Linked DNA regions of Homo sapiens. The protein of the gene in region 6 purifies or fractionates together with the protein of the main gene of each other region. This does not show direct contact. Each region holds a gene or a part of one and is shown on either strand. Other genes may lie near its edges.

Evidence for each region.
Region 1: the proteins of FKBP5 (region 6) and ARAF purify together in Homo sapiens (affinity purification with mass spectrometry; 4 studies listed by BioGRID and IntAct, with this or other methods). This does not show direct contact.
Region 2: the proteins of FKBP5 (region 6) and AGO3 purify together in Homo sapiens (affinity purification with mass spectrometry; 4 studies listed by BioGRID and IntAct, with this or other methods). This does not show direct contact.
Region 3: the proteins of FKBP5 (region 6) and MAP3K7 purify together in Homo sapiens (affinity purification with mass spectrometry; 4 studies listed by BioGRID and IntAct, with this or other methods). This does not show direct contact.
Region 4: the proteins of FKBP5 (region 6) and CDC37 purify together in Homo sapiens (affinity purification with mass spectrometry; 5 studies listed by BioGRID and IntAct, with this or other methods). This does not show direct contact.
Region 5: the proteins of FKBP5 (region 6) and AKT1 purify together in Homo sapiens (affinity purification with western blotting; 3 studies listed by BioGRID, with this or other methods). This does not show direct contact.
Region 7: the proteins of FKBP5 (region 6) and NUDCD3 purify together in Homo sapiens (affinity purification with mass spectrometry; 3 studies listed by BioGRID and IntAct, with this or other methods). This does not show direct contact.

The regions. Positions count from the first base shown.
Region 1 is NC_000023.11:47,563,909-47,568,219, reverse strand, and holds part of ARAF (serine/threonine-protein kinase A-Raf), read right to left. Parts: intron 3,424-4,311; coding exon 3,321-3,423; intron 3,236-3,320; coding exon 3,081-3,235; intron 2,978-3,080; coding exon of another isoform or gene 2,969-2,977; coding exon 2,870-2,968; coding exon of another isoform or gene 2,866-2,869; exon of another isoform or gene 2,245-2,865; intron 1,582-2,244; coding exon 1,440-1,581; intron 1,337-1,439; coding exon 1,309-1,336; intron 1,235-1,308; coding exon 1,089-1,234; intron 991-1,088; coding exon 788-990; intron 1-787. UniProt on the Homo sapiens protein: Involved in the transduction of mitogenic signals from the cell membrane to the nucleus. May also regulate the TOR signaling cascade. Phosphorylates PFKFB2.
Region 2 is NC_000001.11:36,038,692-36,043,002, forward strand, and holds part of AGO3 (protein argonaute-3), read left to right. Parts: intron 1-1,098; coding exon 1,099-1,293; intron 1,294-1,615; coding exon 1,616-1,750; intron 1,751-4,311.
Region 3 is NC_000006.12:90,541,582-90,545,892, forward strand, and holds part of MAP3K7 (mitogen-activated protein kinase kinase kinase 7), read right to left. Parts: intron 3,052-4,311; coding exon 2,971-3,051; intron 1-2,970. UniProt on the Homo sapiens protein: Serine/threonine kinase which acts as an essential component of the MAP kinase signal transduction pathway. Plays an important role in the cascades of cellular responses evoked by changes in the environment.
Region 4 is NC_000019.10:10,392,732-10,397,042, reverse strand, and holds part of CDC37 (hsp90 co-chaperone Cdc37), read left to right. Parts: intron 1-839; coding exon 840-1,115; intron 1,116-1,499; coding exon 1,500-1,608; intron 1,609-1,699; coding exon 1,700-1,815; intron 1,816-1,899; coding exon 1,900-2,022; intron 2,023-3,601; coding exon 3,602-3,784; intron 3,785-3,885; coding exon 3,886-3,957; intron 3,958-4,311. UniProt on the Homo sapiens protein: Co-chaperone that binds to numerous kinases and promotes their interaction with the Hsp90 complex, resulting in stabilization and promotion of their activity. Inhibits HSP90AA1 ATPase activity.
Region 5 is NC_000014.9:104,775,233-104,779,543, reverse strand, and holds part of AKT1 (RAC-alpha serine/threonine-protein kinase), read left to right. Parts: intron 1-2,773; coding exon 2,774-2,885; intron 2,886-3,744; coding exon 3,745-3,892; intron 3,893-4,311. UniProt on the Homo sapiens protein: AKT1 is one of 3 closely related serine/threonine-protein kinases (AKT1, AKT2 and AKT3) called the AKT kinase, and which regulate many processes including metabolism, proliferation, cell survival, growth and angiogenesis.
Region 6 is NC_000006.12:35,678,778-35,683,088, reverse strand, and holds part of FKBP5 (peptidyl-prolyl cis-trans isomerase FKBP5), read left to right. Parts: intron 1-4,311. UniProt on the Homo sapiens protein: Immunophilin protein with PPIase and co-chaperone activities. Component of unligated steroid receptors heterocomplexes through interaction with heat-shock protein 90 (HSP90).
Region 7 is NC_000007.14:44,389,659-44,393,969, reverse strand, and holds part of NUDCD3 (nudC domain-containing protein 3), read left to right. Parts: intron 1-1,484; coding exon 1,485-1,673; intron 1,674-4,311.

The DNA.
Region 1 (4,311 bases), on a different chromosome or scaffold from region 6:
ACTCATGTTCAAATCTAGGCCTCACCAGGTACTCAAGGTACAACCTTGGGAAAGACATTTAACCTCTCTGGGCCTCATGTTCCTCAACTGTAAAACTGATCATTGCATTAGCTACCTTATTCTCTGTAACATAATTGTGCCCATCTGACACAGAGGAAAAGCCAATGCCAACATCCCCAGGGTTGGTAGACGCTATCCAGTACTACCTGTAGTATATAGGTATACAGTACTATGCTACATAGTAACTATAGCAGCAAAAAGGAGACACCTGGCTTTCTTAGCGTGACTAGATGAATACTGTATTGATTACATATTACAGCAATTATAATAATTAAGCAATGATTAGATTATGGTGATGATGATAATATTGTTTAAATCAAGGTATTAGAATTAATGAATAACAAGAACCAACACTATAAACAGAACATTACCATTGTAGCCCAAGCAGAGGGGAAGGAAAGATGGAAGCCTTCCTGGCAATGCAGTAACAAGAATGGTGGCCCACACACAGACCCAGTTCGCAGCAGGCAAATGAGAAGACCCACATTTTGGAGGCAGAACCATTCATTAATAACCCAAACACAAACAACTGCATGATCACAGGTCCTCTAAACATACTCATTTCCCAGAGGGGAAAGGGACACCCTTCAGAGAGAAACAACTTCTGATGATGGTTTAACAACACAAACACAGGTGATGTCCAGGAAGCACTCCAAGCATGGCCTTTTCCCAGAGAGATGCCAAGGCCGGGCCTGCCACCCCCATCCACGCACACATGCCACCTCACCTGAGCACCTGCATCTCATTCTTGAAAGCCTGGGCCTGCTCAGCTGTGGGCTGGGACACCTTGAGCACCTTCACGGCCACATCGCCATGCCACCGCCCTCGAAACACGGTGCCAAACGAGCCCGTCCCGATCCTCTTCAGCAGCTGCACCTCACTGGGTGGTACCTCCCAGTAATAGCCTGAGTCCCGGTACCCCAGGTTCTTCTGTGGGCCAGATGGGTGGCATCTAAGAGGCCTGCCCACATCCCTCATCCCACGTCACTCAGCCTTGGTGGCCCCAAAAGGATCCCCCTCGAGCATACCACTTTCTTCTTGTCATCGGCCAAGGACTTCCGCTCGCGCTGCTCTGCTGGTGACTTGGAATGTGGGGACTTCCTCCCCGAGGACACGCTGGCTGGGCTGGGGCTCCCCCGGGGGGTTCCATCACTACCTCCTCTACTACCGGCAGCTGCAGTTGCAGAGAGGATGTGAGTGGAGGTAAGTGGGGCAGCGGGGGTCAGGGTGCAGGCACAGGGGACTCACCATCAGTGCTGAAACTCTGGCCAGTGAGCTAGAAGAAGAGGGACAGGAGTCAAAAAGAGGGCATGGAGGCCAACAGGGATGGCTCTACCCTCTGCCCTGTGGTCCCCGGCATTGTCCCCCACAGCACCAACCTGGATGAGGTTGGAGTCCATGGGGGCCGTGGTGCTGACCATATGGACGTTGGGAGTGGACGTGGAGCGGATGCGCTGTAGGGGGGCATTGGCTGGGGCAGGGAAGGGGAAGTGCTCCGGGTCACAGTGCTGGGTGCGGGGGCTGCCAGGGGAAAGGCTGTGAAATCACTGCCAGGAATCAGAGAACCGAGAAAGCCCCCCACCCCACCCCCAGCCATAAACATGCATTTGGCTCACACAGAGCGAATGTCCACTGGCAGTACTATTATTCATTGCTTCAAGAAACATTTATTGAGTGCCTGCTGTGTGCCAGATACCATTCTAGGTGGTGGAGATAAAACTGTAAAACAAAATAACAGTTCTTGCCCTGGTGGGGCTGAAATAAAAAACAAATATATAATATGCCTGATGGTGATAGGTGCAATAAAGAAAAATAGTAAAGCAAAATAAGGAGACACAAAGTGTTCCTAGAAAGTGTCAGGAAAGGTTTCTCTGAGGAGGAGATGACAATGGAGTAAACGCCTAAAGGCAGGATAGCAGGCCACACAGATAGTGGGGAAAGGGTAATGTATCATATTTTATAATTATATATTATAATTACATGTACTTTTCAAATGTTATATAATATGTATCATCTATATAAAAATGGCAATGTTTTAAAATATACATATTACCATATTGTTATACATACATGTTATACATATGATATATGCTAAACATATTGTAAAGTTACAAAAATATGTTAATGTTCCCTTCACTATCCTGAAATGAAACTCAAAGGTAATTAATGCACATACACTCATAATTTAAAATAATACCCTAACTTTATTTTATGTATCATATAAACATGTATGATGTTCTACATTATATAAAATTATGTAATACAACATGATACAATAACATAAATATACCATAAAATATGCACATCATAAAATATATATTAGAGCAATAATATATTTTAATATAGCTATAGTTTTATATAATATTTAACATAAAAAAGCAATAAAAGGGAAGTAATTTATGATAAAATAATACGTATTTCAAAATGGAAAGGCTTGAGTATGATTATACTAGAATTAGCAAAGTAGTTAGATGCTTATAAATATATTTATAATTAATAACAAAAAAATTGATTATTTACACTGTACCAGATCCTGTTCTAGGCACTGAACATGTCTTAACTCATTTAAGCCTCACCAGAACCTTTATATGGTAGAAAGTATCATCATCCCCTCTTTACAGATGAGAAAACTGAGGCCCAGAGAAATGAGGTGACTTGCCCAAGGTCCCAGTTTCATGCCCTTACTCACACTTGTAGGTGCTCAATAAATGTTTGTCAAGTAAACAAATGAATAAAGTATGGCTCGTGGTCTACAAGAGCCCCAAGATCTTTTTCTCCCCCAGCAGCTCTTCAGCTAAGGCATCCCTACCTGGGACCCTGGGGGGTTAGCAACTCATTCAGGGGGCGGTTCGAGGGAGCCTCATGCTGTCTGGAGCCTCCGGACAAATCCTGGACACTGTGGTAGAACCTTGAGGGCATGAAGGGTATAAAGCAAGGGGACACGGGTCAGCTGTCTGTAAGGGCCTCGTGGCTGGGCCTCTGTGCTCCCCATCCCCCCACCCACCCCAGGCTGGGCTCACTGTTGGCGGTTGGTACTCATGTCAACACAGACTGTGGGGACCTTGGAGGAACAATGCTGGTGGAACTTGTAGCCACAGGTTTGGCAACGGAAGCCATGGAACAGAAACTTAAGGCAGAAGTCACAGAACGCCAGGCTGAAGAAGGTCTTCCGTACCTGATGCCACAGAGCAGGGAAGTTTGAGACCTGGTCAAGGACACCCCCAACCATGGTCCACCCCCACCGTCCACCCTGCACTCACAAAATTGTGCATGGTCAGCGGGACATCTTCAAGGACCTCGACAATGAGCTCCTCGCCATCCAGGGGAGCAATGGCTGTGTCCCAGGCAGTGACCGTCTTTCGTCTGCAGGGGGCATGGAAAGGAATGAGTGGGAGGTTGGGTAGGGGCCATGGGGAGGCAGGGAACCCCCACAAGTCCCTCCAAGCCTGCTACCCACAGGGTCATGTCTGGCATGTTTAATTCTCATCACAGCAACTCTAGAAATTAGTCACTATCCTTGCCCCAACTTTACAGATGGGGAAACAGGCTCAGAGGGATAAAGTGACTGGCCCTGGGCCACAAGGGTAATGAGAGGCATGACGGTGTGAAGAGTCCATGCTCTGAAACGGAAGGGGAGAAGCAAATGAAACTAAACAACTACATCTTAGAAGCGCTAAGCCAGCCCCTGAAAAGGGGGCTGAGGAGGCACTGAAACAACAAATAAAGTGCAGTGTGTGAACTGCATCATAAATTAAGGAAACCCACGAGAGAGGAATAAATAAAGTCAGCAAGACCCAACTCAGCAGACAGAGAATGGGGAAAATGAGGAAGAAGAGACCTGATGAAGTCATGACATCGTGAAAGGACAAAATAGATGAAATCTGGGCAGAAGTGATGGACCAGGGTGAGGACTTGGGGGCCAGGGGAGAATGAGTTGCTGACCTTACAGGCCAATAAACCAATGAAGTAACAAAACAAAAGATGGATGAACTCATAGATTACTTGAACTACAGTAGTCCTCCCTTATCTGTGGTTTCACTCTCCATGGTTTCAGTTACCTGTGGTCAACCGGGTGGGAAAGTATTAAATTGAAAATTGCAGAAATAAACAATTCATAAGTTTTAAATTACGTGCATTCTGAGTAGCGTGATGAAATCCTGCACCATCCCACCCAGGATGTGAATCACCTCTTTATCTAGCAGATCCACACTGTCTACGCTACCGCCCATCACTTAGTAGCCTGCTCAGTTA
Region 2 (4,311 bases), on a different chromosome or scaffold from region 6:
ATAATGTTATAAGTTCATGCTTTGAGGTCTCTTCTCCAAAGACATAACAATATTAGACACAGAAAGAGAAATTAATATAGCTAGTTTCAAAACCAAGATTAACTTCTCTGAGGACCAGATACAGAACACAAATGCAGCTCAATAAGACTGTATAGATTCAGGCCAAGAGGGAAAATTCTGATTTTAAAATTTATGAAGCGTAACAGTTCTAAGATGAAGCTAAAGTCTTAAGTATGGCTTCTGAGATAGGTTGCTAAAGTGGAAGAGATAGGAAGAAAAATCAGTGGTTTGAATTGGTCCTTGTTTTTTCTTATTTCTTTTCTCTTATTCTCTTATACACATCTTTTTGTCTTTTTCTTTCCTTACTAATCTTTAAGTCTACCAACAACACAAAGAATCTAATTGTTAAATGTATAGTTCAGCCTAGTTATAGGAAAATAGTTTTTTACCCTATACTAGGTGTTTTATTCTGTTCTTCAACGGGAAGTACTATTCTTTTTAATTTTTTAAAAAGATGGGGTAGGCTGGGTGCGGTGGCTCATGCCTGTAATCCCAGCACTTTGGGAGGCCAACGCAGACGGATCACGAGGTCAAGATATCAAGACCATCCTGGCCAACATGGTGAAACCCCATCTCTACTAAAAATACAAAAATTAGCTGGGGGTGGTGGTGCACACCTGTAGTCCCAGCTACTCTGGAGGCTGAGGCAGGAGAATCGCTTGAACCCAGGAGGTGCAGGTTGCAGTGAGCCGAGATTGTGCCACTGCACTCCAGGCTGATGACAGAGCAAGACTGCGTCTCAAAAAAAAAAAAAAAAAAAAAAAAGAGAGAAAGAGAGAGAGATGGGGTCTTGCTATTTTGCCCAGGCTGGCCTTAAATTCCTGGGCACAAGTGATCCTCCTGCCTCAGCTTCCTGAGTAGCTGGGACTATAGGCACATGCCGTCATACCCAACTCAGAATTACTATTTTTGATTACTTTCAAAGTAAACAGTGATGAACAGGTTACAGTAAAATAAAAATGTAAATGAAATTCATGTAATTTTGATTATCATTTATTTTTATTTATTTATTTATTTATTTTACTTTTTCTAACCTAGGTTGTAGGTAGTATGGATGCACACCCAAGCAGATACTGTGCCACAGTAAGAGTTCAGAGACCCCGACAGGAGATCATCCAGGACTTGGCCTCCATGGTCCGGGAACTTCTTATTCAATTTTATAAGTCAACTCGGTTCAAGCCTACTCGTATCATCTTTTATCGGGATGGTGTTTCAGAGGGGCAGTTTAGGCAGGTTGGTTACCTAGAATCTCATCAGACTATGGTGAAATCAGATATTGTGTTTATAATATGGTGTCTAGTTCTAGAGTTAAAAACCTTGTTAGAGTTCCCCAAGTCAAAACTTGGTGTTTTGTTAGATTGTCTTTTTGAAAATGTTCACTACGAATGTGTATGCCTTGCTTGCTAAGACCATGTTCTAATAATCGTTAAAATGGAATCTATTAGCTATAGAGTGGTGAAATTAAGGAATCCTGAGATTAAATCATTATCCTACTTTGAAGTATATAAAAACAAATAGCTGACTATATTGAATCTTTCCATTTCATATTCTCTAGGTATTATATTATGAACTACTAGCAATTCGAGAAGCCTGCATCAGTTTGGAGAAAGACTATCAACCTGGAATAACCTACATTGTAGTTCAGAAGAGACATCACACTCGATTATTTTGTGCTGATAGGACAGAAAGGGTAATCTCACCTCTGTTGTAATACTGTTATAAACCAAGCTTATCCAACATAGTTCATAGAGCATTCAACAAGGGCCCTCTGCCAACAGCAGGATTTCCAATATATAGTAGCAAATTTCAACAATTACATTATGAGTATAGAAGCATCAAAATAGATTATTTTTAACTTTCTAGAATTTCTAGTCACACTCCAAATATTCAAAATCTCATTCTACTTTTTTGTTGTGAAGAAACTCATGGTTTTAAAATTATTCTTCTATTCATATTTTCCTAAAATCTTCAGAAAAAACAGTACATTCTCTTTTTAAAATATCTCATACAAATTAGTTTTTTAAAAAAGTGGAAATTCAGGCCAGGCACAGTGGCTCACACCTGTAATTCCAGCACCTTGGGAGGCCAAGGCAGGCAGATCACTTGAGGTCAGGAGTTCAAGACCAGCCTGGCCAACACGGTGAAACCCTGTCTCTACTAAAAATACAAAAAATAGCCAGGTGTGGTGGCGCACATCTGTAATCCCAGCTACTCGGGAGACTGAGGCAGGAGAATCACTTGAACCCAGGAGGCAGAGGTTGCAGTGAGCCGAGATGGTGCCACTGTACTCCAGCCTGGGCAAGAGAGCAAAACTCCATCTCAAAAAAAAAAAAAAAAAAAAAAGTGGAAATTTATACAAACTAACTTTTAGCCATGTTTCCTTTAAAGTTCACAGAATTATTTTATGCATTTTATAATGTGAATGTATATTTTTTATAATTAGGAAGGAAAGAGAGGTATAAATACCTAAGGAAATATGTTTTCTTTTTTTTTTTTTTTTTTTTTTTTGAGACGGAGTCTCACTCTGTCGCCCAGGTTGGAGTGCGGTGGCGCGATCTCAGCTCGCTGCAAGCTCCGCCTCCCAGGTTCACGCCATTCTTCTGCCTCAGCCTCCTGAGTAGCTGGGACTACAGGCGCCTGCCACCATGCCCGGCTAATTTTTTGTATTTTTAGTAGAGACAGGGTTTCACCGTGTTAGCCAGGACGGTCTCGATCTCCTCACTTTGTGATCCGCCTGCCTCGGCCTGCCAAAGTGCTGGGATTACAGGTGTGAGCCACTGCGCCCGGCCAGAAATATGTTTTCTTATCTGTGTGCAGCAAGACAGCAGTCTTACTGTCATTTTCAGTGCTCTGATCACATCTGCCCCCATCCTGTAAATCTTGGAGCAGAGAAATCTAATGATACCAAGTGTTGTTTCCCCTTGAGAAAGGGATTTGATAGAAAGGACTAAGAGAGGGGTGTTTTTCTTTGCCATACATACTCACTGTATTCCTTTGGGCAAGCAACTTAACATCTCTGTGTCTGTTTATTTCTTAGCAAGATTGGATAATATTAATATCTACCTTATTTGGGTTGTCGGGAGAATTAAATAAAATACGTAATGCACTTAGAACAGGGCTTGGCCCACACTAAGTACTCAGTAAAGATTGGCTAGCTCTCATTAGTAGAGTGATGAGAACAAAAAAAAATTAATAAATAAAGTTTGGCTAGCTGCAGAGTGGTGGTGATAGTGGTAGAATAGAGAAGAAGAAATAATAATAGATATTGTTCTAAGTATTGCTTATAAATTTCATCAATTTAATCCTCACCAACAAGATTATGAGATAGTTGTATTTTTTTGTTTTTGTTTTTTTTGACAGTTTTGCTCTGTTGCCCAGGCTGGAGTGCAGTGGCATGACTTTGGCTCACTGCAGCCCCCACCTCCTGGGTTCAAGTGATTGTCAGGCCTCAGCCTCCTGAGTAGCTGGGATTACAGGCATGTGCCACCACACCCGGCTAATTTTTGTAGTCTTATTAGAGGCAGGATTTCACCATGTTGGCCAGGCTGGTCACAAACTCCTGGTTTCAAATGATCCGCCCACCTCGGCCTCCCAAAGTGCTAGGATTATAGGTGTGAGCCATCACACCCAGCCTACAACTTTTTGTATATATTAATTAGAAGATTTACGTGTTGCTAATTTATTAGAGTTAAGTATTTTTTTAGGACCAGGCATAATTTAGTAGATTATGAACTGTTTTGTTTTGTGCTTGGTAAAGTGAAGCTGGTTGGTCCACACCACTATAATTCAAGGTACTACCTTATAACAGTCACTCACGTGGCAAAAATATTATCTGAGTCAGTAAAATAGTTTCTGATTTGCTAGCCTTGTAAACCTAGACTTACAGTTAATGATTTTAAATGTGTTGGGATAAGGCGGTGGAGGTGGGTATAATAAACATTTTTAAGTGTTTTATAAGGAGCTTGTATCATCAAGAATTTTGGGTCATTTCAGTTATATTATATCCACTCAGAGAAAATCATGGTGTCCTCTTACAAGATGTTGAAACTGATAGTATGAAATAAAAGGAATAAGGCCTTTGCAATTATTTCATTGTTTGAATCCCAGTTCTGCCCTTTATTGTGTGCTATTGAGCAAATTATTTTGTATTCCTGAGCCTTTATTTCCCTAAACAAATGGAAATAATCCCTAACTTGCAGGATTGTTACCAGGTTTTAGAAATAATGTGTTCAAAGTGCCTGATCCATAAAT
Region 3 (4,311 bases), about 55 Mb from region 6:
GAGCCAGTAATATGGTAGAAGAGGTATAAAAAATTGTACAGTCTGACCCACAGGGAGTCCTAAGGTATTAAAGGTTAATTTCTGTATGATCTGAGAGACTACTAAATTGATAAATAGTGCTGTTTTGCTAAGTTGCTTTTTCTTCCACATTTGACTGATGGCATAGTATACACATTTTGAAGAGCGAGCAAAAAACAAGATTACAAGATTAGGGTCTTTGCATTTCTTTACCTATGACTAGGTTAGACATTTTAGTGACTTTAAAGATATATATACAAAACCTTTTTTGTGATGCTTGAAGGATTGCTCTTATTAAGAGAGGTAGTTCATTCCAAGAAGTACATTAGACTCAGTACATTGCACTTGGCCAAAGGGAAGTATTAACGAAACTCTTATCCATGTAAATAAGATCTTTAAAAAGCTATATTTAAAAAGAATCCTTGCAATTGGGTTTTAATGCTAATTAAACAGTTTGAATATATCAAGAAGTATTTGCTAATACCATAAAGCTTGTGGGAAATCCACTTAGAACAAAACAATTTCTAGAAAGTATTAAGAAATTTTGGAAATTAAGTATCACCCTTCTTTACAATTAAAATGTCATGTAGGAAATTTGAGATATTCCCAAAGGATGGGCGGTATTTTTATATTTAATTTAAAAACATTACCTATGAGCACATTCATGATTGGCTTTTATGTCCACTAGTGTCAATTCTACAGCTTGTATTCTTCTATTAAAGAAAGTGCACCTGAGTAAGTTAATGTTTGATATCTGAGGGGGGAAAAGCCTAAAAAGAATATTTAATAAAAGGTATTACTGAATAATATTTTCATATGAATAGCACTGCTGCTCTGGCAATTAAGAGAATTAAGGTTACCTGATTCCATAAAGGCCCAATGTCATAAAAGAGGATCTCCCTGGCTGAAGAGCTCTCCTTAATGTGAACACTAAGAGAAAGCAAGAAGAAATTACTCTAGCTTCTCTGACTTAAACAAAAGAACAAAAAATGGATGTGACTTGGAGTCAGAAGATCTGGGTTGGGGTCCTGGCTATATGATTCTGGAAAAACCACTAAACATCATCAGATCTAAGTTCTTCGTCTGTTAAACAGCTATAATTTCATCCGATAACCTAGTTGTAAGATTGTATAAAGGTAAAATAAGATGTACTTTAAGCTACTTTGTAGGGCACAAAGAACATCTAATCAGGGGTTTTCAGCCTCAGCACTGCTGCCATTTTGGGCTGGATCATTCTTTGTTGGAGAAGACTGCCTGGTACACATCAGGATGTTTAGCAGCATCCCTGGTCTCTGCCCACTAGATGCCAGTAGTACCTGACAGTTATAAACTATTATTCTTTCCTTATTTTTCCCTCCCCCATTATCTTGTATAGCGTGGGCTACGCTGCCATATATAAATTTATTCTTAATGCTTAGTCATAAGATTACACTGCCATCTGTCTAAATTTTCCTGATTCCCTCAAACATTTAAGGGAAGCACAGTTCAGCGGTATGTAAGTTTAAATGCTTCCACCTCTTTAAAGTACGTCCCTTATACACAGTACCTTTCCGCATGGAGGTAAACTGATCTCCATGTAAAATGATCTCTTTGTTAATTTCTGAAGCAGTCCAGATTCAATAAATAAAAATTACCATGTGAAAAATGGGTTAACTCTACTCTTTGAATAGCAATAGTAATGATGTTGTAAAATAAGAAACCACTTTGATAACCAGGGGAAAATTAATATAAGATAGTTTTATACAGACAAAATGGCACCTAAGAATAGTATAATTCATATTTTTGTATGCTAGTTTCTCACCAGGGGAGATGCTCAATAGGTCTGTTCATTTATTTAATAAATGTATTTATTAAACACTATGTTAATATGCTTAATATGTGAAGCACTGAGCCAGCAACTGCTGATACAATCAATAATAAGCAACAACAACAAAATAATGCACAAAGATATGGATTCTATCCTTACATAGTTTTCAGTTTAGTAGAGGAGAAAATAACCATTAGGTATTCAACTAGAATTATCAACACTGCTAAAAACACAATCACAGGCAAAGGACAGCATGCTGAAGAATTCATCCAACTCGCACTCATGAACGTGTGTGGAAAATATGTATTTCCTTATCAAGATTTTGGGTAAAGAGGTAGAGAAAAGCCTAAAGGGATAAATAAATGATAATTTTGATAATACATTAATCAATACTGAAGGTCAATATGCCATTTAAGTTTCTATTAAAAATGGTAACATATTCCTCTATGAAATGATCACCATAAGAAATAAAGCAGTTTACCAATTTTAGACACTAAAGTACCATGTGTAAGTTAGGTATAAAAACATGTAATTTATGAGATTCTCCTGATAATACACAAAAATCAGAATTGACCAACTATTTTACATGATTCTTTGGCAAGATACCCTGCAAAACAGCACATCTCATTTAGCTTTACTTTTTGTTTTCCAGGTTAAGGCAAAATGCTATTTAGCAACTCTCTTCTCTCAACTTCACATTCACTTGCTACCAACAGAAAGAGGTTAGGACAGAAAGTCTAGAGGGGACCCAAAAAGCAGTAACTGAGGAAGGAAAGGAGCCAAGGAAAATAACAAATTTTAATTAGTTGTTTCCTCTTTCTGTTGGGTGCAAAAAAGGTCTGGGTTTAGCTCATGTGCTCACTTAAAAGTAGAGAGGAAGTTGGTAGAATTCTGGGTTGGTGTTCTCCCTTCTCCAAAAAGGTTTACTTTCTCTTCTATTTTATCCTCACTTATTGTAGATCAGAGGTATCTTTTCAAGACTGCTTCAGAATAAATGTAGTTTTTCAATCTGTCTCCCTAATTACTGCATGCAAGGTATCCATTTTCATGTCTTGTAAAAATTGGAGCAAGAAGCATTTTACAAGTACCAGGGATCATTATTCCGGTTCCACAGCTATTAGACCAACTCAGGTGGTCTATGATACCTGATATGACGATCTCAGGGACATCCAGAATGTTGCCAAATGAAGCAGTTTTACGGTGGCCCCGTTTAGGCTTGGAATAGGCTGCAAAAACACATATATACAGTATACATGCAAACAACCACAAACAGTAACACGGAAAATGATTAACTACAAAAATAGACTCATTTTCAAATAGTTCATGTTAATAACATTTCATGCAGAATGGCATGCAGAACTACCTAACTTTTCATCCATGCTCAGAAAAGGCGAGATTAAAGAGCAAACAACTACCAAATACAAGATGTTTTACACACTGGTTTTAATTAGCAGAAAAAAATAAAAAGAACAGAGACAAAGCTGCAGGGTAATGAGGAAGCAAAATTTCAAATATATTCATAGAAACAGTCTACCTAAGTGAAATCACTGATCTGTGATGGGGGTGGGGGAACGAAGGAGGAGAGGAAGAAAGGCGTTAAAAAGTAAGTTGTCGTATTTGTTTTAATTACACAAACACAGGAATACATGTTCAAGTTAGGTGTTTCTTGAAGTGTGCTATAAAGTAAAATCCAATGATTAAATAATAATTATTGAATCAAAGTGTGAAATGTATATGCTTTTGTAGTCATACTTATACATATTTCTAGTACCAAATATTTATTATATTTTCCAAAGTTTAGGGTACATTCACAGTAAACACAAAGTCTGTCAAAAGGCTGGAAAGTATGACTCTTTCCAAGTAAGACAATTCATGAAAAAATTTAAATTGTGTAAAACTCAAGGGATGTACAATAGCATTTGTTCTACACTTAGGCAAAATTTTAATGTGTGTGGTTATCCTTCTAGCAAAGTCATTTCTGTAAATAATAATAAAAAACCAGTGCTTGACTAGAAATATGATACTAGCGAAGACATGAAACCATTATTATAACAATTTTCAGTTTTGAGACAGCAATTAGTATGTGGCAGATCTATCCTGAACAACATCCCTGAAGTGAAAAGGGTTCCTCAAAGCATGAGGGTATGTCCCGGTGAGTAGGGTTCATCTGACACTACAGTGAGACAACCCTGCTCCAAAGAAATACTTGTGACTCATGGAGACTCATGGGCTTGTCAGTGGCTGGTGACTTCTACTCAACTTGATAGTTTCTGAAGACCCATCTGTGGCAGACACAGCTATCTTCTGCCAGTTTCCACTCTTCCCTTCTGTTTTAGCAATAGTACTCTGATTTTATTTAGGACAGAAAAGTCATCAGATAAAAGAGGGCAGATCTCCTCTTCCCTTGGAGCTACGTGTAGCCATTCGACCATGTTACTTTGACCAATGATGTGTGGATGTTGTTAAGAGAGGCATCTGGGAATGTT
Region 4 (4,311 bases), on a different chromosome or scaffold from region 6:
GAAGTTGCCATCATCAGGAAGGTGGTTGGGGAAGGGGTCCTCGCTAAGGCAACATGGAGCCCAGATGGCACGGGTGCCATGGAGTCAGCTGTGGGGGGCTCTGAAGGAAAAGCATTCCAAGTAGTTGGAACAGCCAGTGCGAAGGCCTTGAGGTTCAAGAAAAAAGTGGGCTCCGCAGAGTGCAGTAGCTCCCGCCTGTAGTCCCAGCACTTTGGGAGGCCGAGAGGGAAGGATCGCTTGAACCCAGGACTTCAAGACCAGCCTGGGCAACATGGCAAACCCCATCTTTACTGAAAATACAAAAATTAGCTGGGCGTGCTGGTGCACACCTGTAGTCCCAGCTACTTGGGAGACTGAGGTGGGAGGATCGCCTGAGCCCAGGGAGGTCGAGGCTGCAGTATGTCATCATTGGGCCACTGCACTCTGACCTGGACGACAGAGTGAGACCCTGTTTTTTGTTTTGTTTTGTTTTGTTTTCTTAAACAAAAAAAATGGCCTCAAGAAAAGGTGAGAAAAGTGAGGGGCTGGTGTAGCTGGAAGGAAGAGTTACCAGGGGAGGTGCCGAGGCAGATTGTGTAGGGCCCATGTAGGCTGTGGTGACAACTTGGGTTCTGCTGTGAGATGGGAGCCGCCAGGGTTCTGAGCAGAGGACGGAGGGACCTGACCCCACTTGGGTGTGCGCTGGCACCTGTGGGCGCAGGGGCGGAAGCTGGGAGACCAGGGCACGGGAGGTGGACGCGTACTTTTTCCTGGGGCCATCTCCGGTGCAGGGATTGGGTATGGGGCGGGGGTAAGGGACAGACGACTCCCCAGAGTTGATAGGCCGTCCCTGCCCGCAGGCCCGGGTGGAACGCATGGAGCAGTTCCAGAAGGAGAAGGAGGAACTGGACAGGGGCTGCCGCGAGTGCAAGCGCAAGGTGGCCGAGTGCCAGAGGAAACTGAAGGAGCTGGAGGTGGCCGAGGGCGGCAAGGCAGAGCTGGAGCGCCTGCAGGCCGAGGCACAGCAGCTGCGCAAGGAGGAGCGGAGCTGGGAGCAGAAGCTGGAGGAGATGCGCAAGAAGGAGAAGAGCATGCCCTGGAACGTGGACACGCTCAGCAAAGACGGCTTCAGCAAGGTGTGCGGGGCGGGCGGGGCGGGCAGTGCGCATGCGCAGCCAGAGAGCCTGCAACCAGGACGCATGCGCACCCAATGCCTGGTCAGGGGAGGACCCCGGTGGTGTAGTTGAAGAGTGTGGTGGGGGGCGGGGAGCTGAGGGATGGACGGGGGCCACGTGGGAGGGGGGACAGGCTTGGGGGGCCGGGCGGATGAAACACCCCACCGGTCCCCTCCTCTGATCTGCCCCAAGGCCCATGCCCACGCTCCCGCCACCTTGATGCTCATGGCTTCGTCACCACCTCCGCCGTGGATGGGATGGGCGCTGCGACCACGGCCCGCCCGGCCGCGCTCGAGGCGCTCCGCAGCCTTGCCCCAGCCCACTCCCCCTCTCACCCTACCACAGAGCATGGTAAATACCAAGCCCGAGAAGACGGAGGAGGACTCAGAGGAGGTGAGGGAGCAGAAACACAAGACCTTCGTGGAAAAATACGAGAAACAGATCAAGCACTTTGGTGAGTGGGGCTTGTGGGTTATGGGGGGCAAGGTCGAGGCAGGCCCTTTGCCTCCAGGGCCCTCCAGCACCTTGCCAGCATCTTCCCACAGGCATGCTTCGCCGCTGGGATGACAGCCAAAAGTACCTGTCAGACAACGTCCACCTGGTGTGCGAGGAGACAGCCAATTACCTGGTCATTTGGTGCATTGACCTAGAGGTGGAGGAGGTGAGTGGAGCTTTCCCCGGGACTGTGAAAAGGCGCTGCCATGAGGCCGCCACTTGGTGACGCTGTGCCTGTTCTTCCTGGCAGAAATGTGCACTCATGGAGCAGGTGGCCCACCAGACAATCGTCATGCAATTTATCCTGGAGCTGGCCAAGAGCCTAAAGGTGGACCCCCGGGCCTGCTTCCGGCAGTTCTTCACTAAGATTAAGGTAGGGTCCCTGAGCTGCCAGGTGGCTGGAGGCCCCCTCCCCAGGGAACCAGCCCACAATGCTCTAGGTAAGGCCGACTCCTCTCCACTGGGACTCAAGCCCCTCCAGTCACCGCATCCTAGATCAGGAGAGGGTGGGGCCAGGGAGGAGGAGAGAAGTGGGCAGATTCTGCCAGACTTTAAAAGTGGAGGCCGGGCGCAGTGGCTCACGCCTGTAATCCCAGCACTTTGGGAGGCTGAGGTGGGCAGATCACCTGAGGTTGGAAGTTTGAGACCAGCCTAACATGGAGAAACCTCATCTCTACTGAAAATACAAAATTAGCCGGGCATGGTGGTGTGTGCCTGTAATCCCAGCTACTCGGGGGGCTGAGGCAGGAGAATCGCTTGAACCTGGGAGGCAGAGGTTGCTGTGAGCCGAGATCGTGCCATTGCACTTCAGCCTAGGCAACAAGAGCGAAATTCCATCTCAAAAATAAATAAATAAATAAATTAATTAATTAAATAAAAGTGGAGGTCAGGCCAGGCTTGGTGACTGAGTACTATAGTCCCAACTATTTGGGAGGCTGAGGCAGGAGGATCACTTGAGCTCAGGAGTTTGAGCTGTGGTTTGCCACTGCACTGCAGCCTGGGTGACAGAGCAAAACTGCATTACAAAAAAATGTGGGAGCAGTAGGATGTGCTGAAGGTACCCAGGTGAATATGTGGGTAAAGGACAAAGGTGAGGGTGCCTCTAGGGTTTTGGGTTTTAGTTCATTTTTGAGACAGAGTCTTGCTCTGTCACCAAGGCTGGAATGCAGTGGCGTGATCTCAGCTCACTGCAACCCCTGCCTCCCGGGTTCAAGCAATTCTAGTGCTTCAGCCTCCCAAGTAGCTGGGATTACAGGTGCCTGCCAGCCTCAGGGTTTTTTTGTTGTTGTTGTTTTGTTTTTTTTGAGATGGAGTCTCACTCTGTTGCCCAGGCTGGAGTGCAGTAGCACGATCTCGGCTCACTGCAACCTCCGCCTCCTGGGTTCAAGCGATCCTCCAGCCTCAACCTCCTGAGTAGCTGGGACTACAGGCATGTGCCACCATGCCCGGTTAATTTTTTGTATTTTAGTAGAGACGGGGTTTCACCGTGTTAGCCAGGATGTTTTCGAACTCCTGACCTCGTGATCCGCCCGCCTCGGCCTCCCAAAGTGCTGGGATTACAGGCGTGAGCCACCGCGCCCGGCCTAGCCTCTAGGATTTTTAACCTGCGTACCTGGAGGAACAGGGCTATCCTTACCGAGATTAGGGAGACCAAGGACAAGGCAGGCTGGGAGGTGGCCATGTTGAGTTAGAGGTGCCCATGCAGGGACACTGAGGACATGAGTGTCTCAGATCTGCAGTAGAGCAGGGCTCCCAAGCAGGTGGTCTTTGGCAAATGCCAGATGAGGTCCCCGGCGGGGGAGCCCAGGCCTTGGGGAGCCCTTCATGTAGGTCAGGAATAGACTTGGGGAACCGTGGGGCGCCTCTGAGGAGCTGTGGCTGGAGGGTCCTGGGCCCCCCAGTCCCTCCTGAGCGTTGGGCCAGGTCCAGTGAGCACTGCCCAACCCCCATAGACAGCCGATCGCCAGTACATGGAGGGCTTCAACGACGAGCTGGAAGCCTTCAAGGAGCGTGTGCGGGGCCGTGCCAAGCTGCGCATCGAGAAGGCCATGAAGGAGTACGAGGAGGAGGAGCGCAAGAAGCGGCTCGGCCCCGGCGGCCTGGACCCCGTCGAGGTCTACGAGTCCCTCCCTGAGGTGGGGCTCCCCGGCCCAGGCGGGCAGCAGGAAGACCCTGAGCGGGACCCCCCAGGGCCACAGGGACCCAGCCCCTGACCCCAGCCCCTCTGTACCCCCAGGAACTCCAGAAGTGCTTCGATGTGAAGGACGTGCAGATGCTGCAGGACGCCATCAGCAAGATGGACCCCACCGTGAGTAACCCCCGCGCCCCATGCCTTCCCGGCGGGCCGTGTGTCTCCCCCAGCCCTGTGTCCCAAGTCTCTGAAGCCGGCTGGTGAAAGTGCCCCTCCAAGGCTTCTCCAAGGAGTAAGGGGGGTCGTGTCACCTTGGCACACACCCACATATATTGAGCACCTACTGTATCCCAGTATCCAGCAGATAAATGCTGAGCTTTGAGCGCATGTCCTTCGTGACTGTCACTGTTACTGTGACTGAGTCCAGCCTCAGTTTCCTTATCCAAACCACATTTTCTCTCAATATCAGCTCACAAAATGCGTGGGAAAGGGAGGTGAGCACATGGCAGGGGCTGGTAAACGCTGGCTGTT
Region 5 (4,311 bases), on a different chromosome or scaffold from region 6:
AAGTGGCAGCAGAGCCCAGTCTCAGGGTGGACAGCTGCCCCGGGGGCCCCTCCTCCAAGGGGGTTAGATAGAGCCCATCAGGGCCTCTCCTTGGGAAACCCCTTGGGTGAGGGGGCAAGAGTCCATTGGGGTCTCCAGCTCTGAAGCCTCCATCACTCGAGGAAGAGCTCGTGCCTCTCCCTGCACAGGCTCTCAGCCTCCAGACCCCATGGCAGAGCCTTTGCTTCCCCTCTGTGAGGCTGCCTCCTTGCCCATGGAGGGGCAGGTGCAGAAAGGCCAGCGGGGGACCTTGGCCGGAGCATCCCACAGAGATGAGAGACATGTGACGCTCCCTGCTCCGCCCTGCTGTGGCTTTATTCCTTACCTGTAGCGGGGGCAGGTGCGACCCTACCCATGTCAGACGGGAACCCTGGCATGGAGACCCAGGCGCCCTGCTAGGTGGGAGGCTGGGGACACGTGGGCCTCCCAGCATGGTCCCCATTTTCTGTGTCCCTGTCCTGGAGCCCAGCTCTGCCTGTGGCAGCCAGAGACACGGGTTGGGCATGCAGGTGTGACTGAGTGGCTAATTAGGGCCCAGTTGTGGGCCATCTGTATGTGGCAGGGCTGGGTAACTGCAGGCCTCTGGGATCTGTCTCAGGCAGGTCTGTGGTGCAGAGCGAGGTGCCCACCAGGGGCTGGCCTTAGGTTCCATCCCCATGTGCTGCATCGGCCCCTCCCCTCCAAGTAGCTCTGCCCTCCTTTCTTTGAGGCCTGCGGTCCTCCGACTCCCTTGAACTTGCTGGACCCCCAGGTTCTGGTCCAGGGTCTGGGAGGAGGTTAAATGCAGGGAATCCGTCCCCAGGCTGGGCAGGGAAGGACTCCCACCCTTGGTGCCTGCACGTATAAGGGGAGGTGGGGTCAGTCTGGCACCCTGGCTGCTAGGTGGTCTGTGGCCAGCAAACCGTGCCCTGAAGCTTCTAGTTGGGAGGGGCAGAGGCCTTGCCCTGCAAAGCCCCAGGCTGAGGGGCTGGGGTTGGGGTGGGGTTTACCAGGACCTGGTTCCTGTAAGCCGAGGTCTCCTTCCCTGGCTCTTCCAGCCTCAAGCCAGCAGTAGCAGGGCAGCCTGATAGAGTAGGGCACCCCAGGGGTGAGGGGAGACCAGGAAGGCAGACACCCCTGTCTCCTGACAGCCTCGTAACCATGCAGGAGACTCACTGTGACTTGTCCCACACCCTCCCCAGTGTCTCCTCGGTTGGGGCTGGGGGCTTCAGGGATCAGGGAGAGGCTGGGTGCCAGCAGCGTGCCTGGTGGCACCTGGGACAGGGCCTTGCTGGGGGTGGGTGCTGTGGGTGTGCTCGCCAGGCCGAGGCATTGGGAAGGAACGAGGTGGGGAGCTCTCTGGAGAGGCACACGGGTGGGTACCAGCTGGAGGTGTTGCCTGAGCAGCTGGCAAGGCTGGGGCCTTCAGATTAGGCCATAGGTGAGTGGCCTGGAGCGCCTGGCCAAGGAGCAGAGCTGGGCAGGGGCCAGGGGCTGTGCTGGGCCTCTGTCCGGGGCTTTTCTCCGGGGAACGGTTCCGGGGCAGTGGGCTCGAGACTCTGGCCCTGGGGATTGCATACTGGGGCAGATCGGACCATCCAGGAGCGAGTGGGAGGTGGGTGTGCCGGGGCTTCACACCGGTTTCCACTTCTCTGGCCTGTGTTGACACAGGCCACCCTCCCCACCAGGCTGGTCCCGAGCCCCCTCCTGGCCCCCAGGCCTGGAAGACAGCTTCCTTGCTGCCTGGCCAGGCCCCCTTGTGGTTGCCAGGGCCTCGATGCTGGAATGTCAGAGGCCCCCCACTGGCCCCTCAGCCTCCTCCTGCTTTGCACAGGCTGGGCCAGAGCCTGCCACGGAGCCCCAGCGGCTACACACTCCACTCACTCACACCTCTCAGGGCCCCGCACGTTCCCACAGCCCTCAGGGTGTACGTGCTGTAGGTGTGGCTGTGCCCCAGGTATGTGTTCCCCAGGTGTGCTTGTGCCCCAGGTGTGGCTGTGCCCCAGGTGTGCGTGTGCCCCAGGTGTTCGTGTGCCCCAGATGTGGCTAGGTGTCTAGATGTGTTCTAGATGTCTGTGTATTCCAGTGTGGCTGTGTCCCAGGTGTGCGTGTGCCCCAGGTGTGTGCCTCAGGTGTGCGTGTGCCCCAGGTGTGGCTTTGCCTCCAGTGTGTGTGTGCCCCAGATGTATGTGTGCCCCAGGTGTGGCTGTGCCCCAGGTGTGCCTGTGCCCCAGGTGTGGCTGTGCCCCAGGTGTGCCTGTGCCCCAGGTGTGGGTGTGCCCCAGGTGTGGGTGTGCTCCAGGTGGCTGTATTTCCCAGGTACTCAGGGTGAGGTTGGGAAAAAAGCAGGACATTTCTACACTAGGTGGGACAAGCAGGTTTCTGGGGTGCCCCCCTCATGCCAGCCCCTCTGTGGGATCTCCATACCCCTCATCCTCTGAGGCCTGGCGCACGGCGGGGCTCAGAGACTGAAGGAAGGACTGTAGGAGTGGACGATGGTGGGGGTTTGACCTGACGCCGGGCCAGATGCCCTGTGTGGCTGCCTCAGCCTGGAGTAGAGTGTCTGAGCTGGAACAGGGGTCCTAGCCCCACTCTGTGAGGCGAGAAACTGAGGCTTGGAGAGAGGAAGAGATGGGGCTTCCCAGGACCTGGTGGGTGGTATGCAAGGGGAGCTGGCTGGTGCAGCGGGGGCTGTGGTGAGGGCCCTGGGAGGGGCAGGGGGATGCACGCAGACAGAGGCTCTGCCTGCCCGCAGAGTGCCAGCTGATGAAGACGGAGCGGCCCCGGCCCAACACCTTCATCATCCGCTGCCTGCAGTGGACCACTGTCATCGAACGCACCTTCCATGTGGAGACTCCTGAGGAGCGGTACGTGGGCTGTGGCGGCCAGGCCAGGCACTTGGGCAGCCCCAGCGCTTAGGAGGGACACGGGGATGGCGGGGTGCTGGCACCTCTGCCTGTAGCCATCCTCACTCCCCAGTGCTCCCAGGCCCTCCTCAGAGCCCAGTTTGGAAACTGGCCCAGTCCTGCCTGTGGGGTTTGGGTGGGGAAACTGAGGCTGGAGATAAAAACTGGCTAGGGACCGGGTGCAGTGGCTCACGTCTATAATCTCGGCACTTTGGGAGGCCGAGGTGCGCAGATCACTTGAGACCAGGAGTTTGAGACTAGCCTGCCAACATGGTGAAACCCCCGTCTCTACTAAAAATATAAAACTTAGCTGGGTGTGGTGGTGCACACCTGTAATCCCGGCTACTTGGGAGGCTGAGGCACAAGAATCGCTTGAACCCGAGAGGCAGAGGCTGCAGGAGCCGAGATTTTACCACTGCACTCCAGCCAGGGCGATAGAGCAAGACTCCGTCTCAAAAAAAGAAAAACCCGGTGGAGAGGGCCAGTCCTCCTTGGGGGGCGGAGTCCTGCTTGGGAGGCGGAGTCCTGCTTGGGGGGGGCGGAGTCCTGCTGGGGGGCGGAGTCCTGCTGGGGGTTGGAGTCCGGTTGTGGGGACAGAGTCCTGCTGGGGGGCTAAGCCTGGGTGTCCCCCACGTCCAAGAGGGCTTCGTGACCCTGAGTGTATGTGGCCAGACCAGGTCAAGTGGTGGCCTCCTCAGGGCTGTCTCTGGGAACCCCGACAGCTGTGGAACCACGCTTGTGAGGCTGGCGGGTGGGTGAAAGACGTGGGGTGGAGCTCCTGATCTGGTACAGGCCTGCAGCCTCACCTGACCTCCTGCAGGGAGGAGTGGACAACCGCCATCCAGACTGTGGCTGACGGCCTCAAGAAGCAGGAGGAGGAGGAGATGGACTTCCGGTCGGGCTCACCCAGTGACAACTCAGGGGCTGAAGAGATGGAGGTGTCCCTGGCCAAGCCCAAGCACCGCGTGGTGAGGCCTGTCCCCACTTCTGCCTGTGCCTGGGGCTGCCTTGGACTGTGGAGGGCTGGGTGGGTCATGGGGTCCCAGCTCGGCCCAGGAGACACTCAGCACTCCACGGCATCTCCACCTAGGCCGGTTTTCCATGTAGGGCGCAGCTGCTTCCCAGGTGGGTCCTCTTCCCCATGTCAGAGGAAAACTGGGGTTGCTGAGCCCTGCCAGGCTTGGGCAATGTTACCCCACCCTTCCCTGAACCCCATGCTCTGAGCTGGGGCCGCAGCCATGTGTTCCCTGTAAGCCTGGACTCCCCGCTGAGCCCAGTAGGCCACCAGGTGTGAAGTGGACGCCTCTCCTGGCTCTGCCTCCGACTCTGGGGCCCCTCATGCCACCCCACGCATGCCGACCAGCTGGGCACTGTTGGCAGCGCCGCT
Region 6 (4,311 bases):
TTTAAAGAAAGAGCTTGGGATATATATTTCTATACTTTTTTTAAGAAAAAGATTGGAAGAGACATATATATACACACAGACACATACATACATTTTAAAGAGATTGACGTATGTTTTTAACCTTTTTTTAAAAAAGAAATGGGATATATATATATATACTTTTTTTTCTTTTTTTTTTTTTTTAAAAGAGATTGTTTCTTGCTCTGTCACCGAGGCTGAAGTGTGGTGGCTAACTGCAGCCTCGACACAAACTCCTGGGCTCAAGCAATCCTCTTGTCTCAGCCTCCCAAAGTGCTGGGATCCCAGGCCCAAGCCACCATGCCTGGCTTAAAAATGTAGTACATTTGAATTGTATCCTTTTGAAATTGTTCGTTTTTTGGAAAGAAGAATAAGAGATGAAGAAAAATCAGACTGGAAGAGGGTTGTTTTTTCCCTTTTGTAGTTGCAAATCCTAAGTGGGCAGTGGTAAATTTCTAGAATCATTTGTAGCATTCTGTTTTAAACTTGGCAATTTAAAGATGTTATAAATGAGGAGTCCCCAGAAAATGGTCATTTCATTATCAAAAGCAGGGTTGCAAATTTCAGATTGATCTTTTCAAAAGTTAGATTTGTACTTGTTCTCAGTGTTCCTATCTCTGGAAACTAAAGAACCTCCTCCATTGTTAGCTGAAAATTGCACAGTGAATTTGAAAGTCAAGATGTCCCAGTCATGGACATAATGCTGCGATAGGTTACTTTTTGGAATGGAGAAAACATCTTAGAGATTGAGTCTGCATCAGAATATATTCTGAATGAGCATGGAATGTTCTTTACCCATGTTAGATATTAATTAATTAAGTTTTTCCATGTTTAACTTTTTTAAAAAAGCAAGACAATAAAAACAGTCTTGTAATCTGAACACATATTTTGGGTTTTGTTGCTAGCATAAAAATTATTACCTAGTGGATGGTAACACTGTTTTGAAATTCTAGCTTGGAGGAGATGTTTGTTACAAGAGAAAAGGTGTTTCATTGAAACCTAACAGGGTAATTTACATGGAGAGATACTTGTTTCTCTTTTGAGTTATTGTTAGGTTAAGACATAAACTTAGAAAAATTGAGATGCTCATCTTTCCCATCTTAGATTTACTTTCACTATGAACTTTATAAATTCTTTTTTTTGAGACAGTCTCACTCTATCGCCCAGACTGGAGTGCAGTGGCGTGATCAGAATTATTCAAGCTTATGTATGTGTGTGTATTACACATATATTACACATATGTATAAATATCAAATATCTTTTTTACATTATATATAATGGTATATATGGTTGCTATATGTTTTATGTGTGTATAGCAGTATCTATCTATACTGCCTTATTTCCCAGGCATATTTATATGCGAAACTTTTTTTCTGTGAAATCTTATTGTACCAAGAGGAATAAGTATATATGCCCACAAAAAGACTGGGTCATAGCAGCTTTTTTCACAGTAGGAATAAACTACTGATTCACATAGCAACATAGATGAATCTCAGAAATACTGTTCATAGCAAGAGAAGCCAGGCACAGATGAGTATGTATAAGTGTTTATGATGCCATTTATGAAAAATACAAGAACAGGCAAAACTAAGGTATGGTGATAGAAATCAGGACAGTGGTTGCCTCTGGGTAGGGGTTGTGGTTGACTGGAAAGGAGCACAAGGAAACTTTCTGGCATGATGGAAATATTCTGTAGCTTGACTTGGGTGATGGTAATTCAGTTATATACTTTTTGGGTAACTTCGTTTTCATGTAATTTTTAACTTACAGAAAAGTTGCAAGACTAGTACAAAGAGCTTCCGTATACCTTTATCCAGTTTTGCCAATTGTTATATACATTTACTCAAACATATTGATTCAAACTTAAGATTTTATAGTATGTAAATTTTACTTTAATAAAGGAAAGAAAGCTAAAAAAAGTGTTGAAAATGAGGATGATCTTGTTATCTAAAAAACATGAAATACCTCAGTTAGGAATTAACCAGTGGTTTAATAATGATGAGAAAAAGAATCGTTGGCTGTCTTTTGTCTTCATGTATATGTATTTATACTGCTTTTCACTAAAGACTCATGACATGTTTCTGTTAGAAGAAACAGGATCCTCAAAACGATTCAAGGTAGAACTGCCTACAAGGCAAACCTGCTTTATTTTGTTATCCTACACATGTCACCTAGGGAATGTGACTGAAACCTAGCAATAGCTTTCTGGGAATTGGAAGTTGTGACTGTTTCTGTTAAAAGAGTTGTATACCTACAATGTGCTAGCTGTTGCAAAGACATGAACAGTTTTTACTATCCTAGAACTTAGCCAAAGAAGAGGAGGCATACAAATCTGGTTGTTGTTTTTGGGTGGTGCTATTTTTCATAGGCAGGAAAGACATTGGTGTTTGTAAACTAAACTATTCTTGATCATTGGTAAGTGGTAAATCTGTCACTGTCTACTAGATTTAATGTTTCCACAGCCTCAATAGTGTGATTTGATTTAGATTAAATCAATTTAAATCATAGCTTAAACAATAATGGCTAAAAAAATTCAACTTTCCAATTCTACTACTTATTTTATGTAATTTTTAGTATGTGTTCATTACAATTTAGTATTAGGCATAATTAATGGATATTGGTTCTTTTTGTTTTTTCTTTTGAAACAGGGTCTAATTCTGTTGCCCAGTCTGGAGTGCAGTAGTGCGATCATAGCTCACTGCAGCCTGGAACTCCTGGGCTCAAATGATTCTCCTGCCTCAGTTTCCTGAGTGGCTGGGACTATAGGCGTGCACCACCATGTCTGGCTAATTAAAGAAAAATTGTAGAGACAGAGTCTTGCTGTGTTGCTCAGGCTGGTCTTGAACTCCTGGCCTCAAGTGATCCTCCCACCTTGGCCTCCCAAAGTGTTAGGACTGCAGGTATAAGCCACTGTGCCTGGCCTGGTTCATTTTTTTAAATCTTTTTTTTTTTTCCATCTACATCAGAAAGTTGTTTTATTTGGTCATATAGTCGAGTAGAAGATGTTTGAAGTAACTGGAGGGCTAACCAGATGCTTCAACAAATTAATCATTGATATTCAACATAAACATTTATTTTGCCTTTACTCATGAAAATAATAAAGTTATATGACCTATATATTTTTATTTATAAGTTTTTAAATTTAATATATTTTTATTTCAATAGCTTTGGAGTACAAGTGGTTTTTGGTTACATGGATGAATTATATCATGGTGAATTCTGAGATTTTAGTGCATCTGTTACCTGAGTAATACACATTTTACCCAATATGTAGTTTTTTATTCCTTTCCCCTGCCCTCTTCTGAGTCTCTAGAATCCATTATATCACTCTGTATGCCTTTGTGTACTCATAGTTTATCTCCCACTTATAGGTGAGAACATGCAGTATTTGGTTTTCCATTCCTGAGTTAGTTCACTTAGAATAATGTATCCAGCTTTATCAAAGTTGTTGTAAAAGACATTATTTCATTCCTTTTTTATGGCTGAGTAGTATTCCGTTGTGTGTGTATGCCATGTTTTCTTTACTCATTTAACTTATATATTTTTCAACAAAAACATAATTCTTTGAAGAATGACAGATGTCTGATATCAATCAACATGGATAAAAGGACTAACTTCTTCCATGTAATAAACATGTTCATATTTCTCTGAAATGACAGAATAGGCCTTTTCCCCTTTTATGGTCCATTTCACTATGGTGTTTAATTGATCAGTCGAGAATGAAGAAAACATTCTTTGAAAAGTATCTGCCAGAATTTTGTTTAGAATGGTCAGCCTTAACTGAAGATAGGATTTAAAAAGTATACCTGTAAGTAGACCTTTTTAGACTTTTTATTATGAAAGTTGCATACATACACAGAATCGTAGAGAATTGTCTAATGAAGTTCCATATACCTCCTCTCCAGATTCTTTAATGAACCTCCATGTACCCATTCCCCAGATTCATTAATTACTGACATTTTGGTTATTTGTATTTCATATATTTTTTTGAGACAGGGTCCTACTTGTTGCTCAGGTTGAAATGCAGTGGTGAAATCACAGCATGCTGCAGCCTTGACCTCCTAAGTACAAACAGTCCTCCCACCTCAGCCTCCACAGTAGCTGGGATTACAGGTATGCATCACCATGACCAGCTAATTTTTAAGTTTTTTTGTAGAGCCACAGTCTCACTATGTTGCTCAAGCTGGTCTTAAAATCCTGGGCTCAAGCTGTCTTCTTGCCTTGGCCTCCCAGAGTGTTAGGATTACAGGCATGAGCCACTGTGTCCAGCCATGTGCTTTTTTAAACTGTTAA
Region 7 (4,311 bases), on a different chromosome or scaffold from region 6:
GGTGGAAGGTGCAGTGTTAGGACACTGCTCTCTCAAGCCCGTGTATACTGGTGAGTCTCCAGTGCTCCCTCTTGGGGGGACGTGGTGTCCTGTGGACTCACTGTGACCTCTTGAGTGTCACAGTTACCCTGAGTGTGGCTTGGTAGGTTTTGCCCACCTGGTCAGTAAGTGTCCTGGTGGCTGCCACCTCCATGGATGAGAGCTGCTCTCACTTGCGGGCCCTTTGCTACCTTTTCTCCCTTTCTGTGAGCACCTAGTGGTTTAATCCCATCAGAGAGTCCCATCACACTTGGGCATGTGAATGTACCTCTTTCAATTGTAAATATTATGAAATCTAAACACAGATCAAGTATTTCTGTTGAAAAAGTGCAGTGCTCATCTAGGGCAAAGTAGACAAACCCACTCTGTTGCTTCTTGGCCACTCTGGTAAGAATTTTGAGCCCAGCCACTGACCACAGCAGATGCAGCCAGTTTTCTTGTTTTCTGTGTCTGTATGACCACTGATAACAGGGCATGGTGTGGCCAGGGCCCTCCTCTGTGTCCCTGGGACAGGCCAAGCAGCCAGGGTCACCTAGGTACATACAGCACCCCTCACGTTTGCTCTCATACTGCAGTTCCAGTTGTCTTTTAAGTTTTTATGGTAATGACATGAGTCTCACAGACCCCAACACTGAGGGCTGGATCTTAAATGCTGGGTGCTGCTTCCTTTGACCAAGGGATGTCTGTGCCATCCCCACAGAGGTGCCCAAGGAGGCCTCTTTTGGGGTTGTTTCTTGATGGTCGTTTCTCCTTCCCAAGCCATCAGAGAACTTTAGGGAATGGGGCTGGAGGACCCCCTCATGCAGCAAGCTTGGCCCCAGTGAGGAAGAAGTGGGGACAGGGCATGGTGCCCTGTCATGGGGTGAGGACTCCCCAGGAGATTCTGTCATGCATTAGGCTGAGCCCTAAGTCTCATAGGTCCCAGCTTACCCCTAAGATAGCAGAATGTTGGATGTTGCTCTTGGAAGCAAGAGAGATCACTGGAGAGGTAGTTGGTTGATAAGAGCTAAGCAGAGCCTTCCATGGCAAGCATGGGGGCAGGCTGGGTTGGCCCAGGACAGGTCCTGGTGTGGGGGGGTGTCATGGGTCTTGGAAAATAGCCTTTCTTCATGAGAGTGGGCAAGGTGTGCACATGGAACAGGCACTGTCCTGAGTATCCAGGACCTGCTGAAGAAGGATAAAGGCATCTTCCAGAATGTCAGTCCCCTCAGGTATGTGCCTCCTAGCTCTTCCCTGGGATATGTTAGCACAGGCAGCAAATGCATTCCCAGGCACAGAGGGTCCTGCCTTGGGTTCTGGCACCCCCTCTTGTCTGTCACCTCCCTTTGTGTAGTTGGTCCTGAGCTTATCCTGGACACCCATCCCTCAGTGGGCTCTGCTCTGTCCCCAGCCCTGGACACCTGTCTCAGGTCTCTGACTCAGGTCTCTGTCCTGCTTGTCCCCAGGTGAACCTGAGCAAGGTGGGCGAGTATTGGTGGAACGCCATCCTGGAGGGAGAAGAGCCCATCGACATTGACAAGATCAACAAGGAGCGCTCCATGGCCACCGTGGATGAGGAGGAACAGGCGGTGTTGGACAGGCTTACCTTTGACTACCACCAGAAGCTGCAGGGCAAGCCACAGAGCCATGAGCTGGTACGAGCATGGCAGTCCTGGAGAGTCCACCCTTTAGGCCCTTGTGCTGGTGACAAGGCCGATAGTGGCAGAGGGGTTGGTGATGACGGTGGGGAAGAAGGTTGTGTGGACCAGCTTCCTGCCATGTCCTAGCCTAGCAAGGAACCTGTCTTACCTGCTCTTGTCCCCAATCACTGCCTCACAGGTGCACTCTGGTCTTTCAGCTGTGTTCTCATACCTGGGCTGAGAGCCCAGTTAACAGGACCTCGAAGGGTGTCATGAGATCTGCCCTTCCTGCACCAGAGCCTGGTAACATCAAGTGTGTTGATGGCTTTTGTTTGTGCCTCATCTGCACATATCTTCCCATGAAGAGTCGCTTGGTGGGACCTTTGGTAGAGGAGGGGAGGGAGCCAGATTGCAGAGCCAGTTTCTGGATGTTGGAGGCCAGCATGTGAAGACTCTGTGATGTCAGCAGTGGGTTAGGGAGGAGGAAGAGAAAGGTTCCTGTCTGACCAGTGTAGTGCCCAGTGTAGAGTTTGCTCATGGCCAAAGAGAATGATTAATTAGATGTATACATTCTTTCTTCCTATTTTAATAACTCCAAGAGTAGCTATTTAGGGAAAAAAGGGTTGCTTTCCTCAGATTATTTTTAACTTCCCGTGTCCCATATACCCAGCACGTGGGTTTGGGCCGCAGTACAGCAGGGCACGCGGACGCAGTGCAGCCTTGAGTCAGTGGGGAGGGGTCATCTGCTGGGCACAGTCTCCTTATTTTTGTTCTGTAAACACGGACCGCCTCCTCCCCCTGAAGATCGCTGATCGATATTTTCTTCTCATTTTGTCTCTTGGAGGAACCTTACCTTGTGGTGTATCTGGATTGTCTTAGTCTTACCTTCCGGTACAGCACGTATTAATACATCGTAGGTGGTTCTGCAAGCCCTGTTGCTGTGTCTCGTCCGTTCTTGCCTATTTTCACAGACAGGTGCATCCTGCTCTTATGAGGTGAAGGAGCCTGCGGAGAGGAGTGTCAACATGTTCTCCTCACCTGGCCCTGCCACACCAGGGGCATGTCCTGAGCACTTAGTACACACAGTTAAGGTGGGGTTGACTGGCTGCACAGTACCCCTGAAAATACAGTTTGTTTGTTTTTTGTTTTTGTTTTTGTTTTTTTCCCCCCACAATAGAGAGATTGAATTTCTGAGGTTGTGACTCAGTAGCTTAGGCAGCAGGGATGGGGTTTGACCTCTGATTTGATTTCACACCTGTCTGTCCTCACAGCCCTGTCCACCCTGGCCCTTGTCTCTATGGAAGAGAATGTTCCTCTAGGTTTGGCCCCCTTTTCCACCCGGGGCATGGCAAGCTTAAAGGACATCTTTGCTTGGCCTACGTCCATGCAGAGTTTGAAGCCTCAGGTAGTATTGCAGCACCTGCTCAGCTGAGCTCAGCTCAGGTGCTTAGACAGCCAGACCTGCCTGGTTATGGCTCATTCCAGTTATGCTGCATTTGCCTGTGGCCACTAGATGAAAGGCCAGCCTTTGAACCTTTGCCCTGTGGGTAGGGCTTCTCATGGTAGTGTTTGGGGATGGTGTATGTGAGGGTCTGCCCACTCTGTGCCCATATTCAGCATTGGGTCCACAAAAGGACTGAGATGTATTCATGAGTTGACCTTCGGGAGAAAGAGTCTGTTTTGACTGGAGAACATGAACCCAGATGCCTTTTGTTCCAGAAAGATAAGAAGGCAGTCTTACCATGTACCCCTTAGAAGTGTCTTTTTGTGCCACAGGATGGAGGGACTAAGGTCAGGTGGTTTCTCACATCTTCCCCAGACACTGACACTGAGCCTTTGTTACAGAGAGATGATAAAAATTATTGTAGTTTGAATGGTATTTGTGCGTTTGTCAAAGCCTTGATGAAGTTTTTGTAGACTTTATTTTATTTTATTTTTTAAATTTTTTGAGACAGAGCCTCGCTCTGTCACCCAGGCTGGAATGCAGTGGTGTGATCTCAGCTCACTGATACCTCCGCCTCCCAGGTTCAAGCGGTTCTCCTGCCTCAGCCTCCTGAGTAGCTGGGACTACAGGCGCACACCACCACGCCCAGCTAATTTTGTATTTTTAGTAGAGACGGGATTTCACCATGTTGGCCAGGCTGGTCTCGAACTCCTGACCTCAGATGATCCACCTGCTTTAGCCTCCCAAAGTGCTGGTATTACAGACGTGAGCCACCACGCCTGGCCAGTTTTCTGTAGACTTTAGCTGTTGAGGCATGAGAGAAGCTAGGATGCTCTGGCTGTTTTTATCTGTGAGCCCTCATGTTTCCTGTGATTGTATCTCTTACAGAACTTTATATTCAAAAACAAAATAGCAGGAATACCTGCTCATCATTGGAGTTGCCAGTAGTGCCAAAGACACGCATGGAGGTGTCAGGGGCTCCACCAGCCTTTTCTTCTCTACATCCTTGCCCCTCCCCTTCCCTCCTTTCTTTCTGTTTCCCTTTTCTTTCCCTTACATCCTCCCCTCTCCTTGACCTTCCTCTCAGTCTCTTTCCCCCATCCTTTATGTTCTGTGCCAACACCTTGTAACATTGCATAGTCTCACCCCTCTATTGGGGCACGTCGGTGAGGAAGACAGACACAGATCTGCCTTTGTGGTGCTAGGATT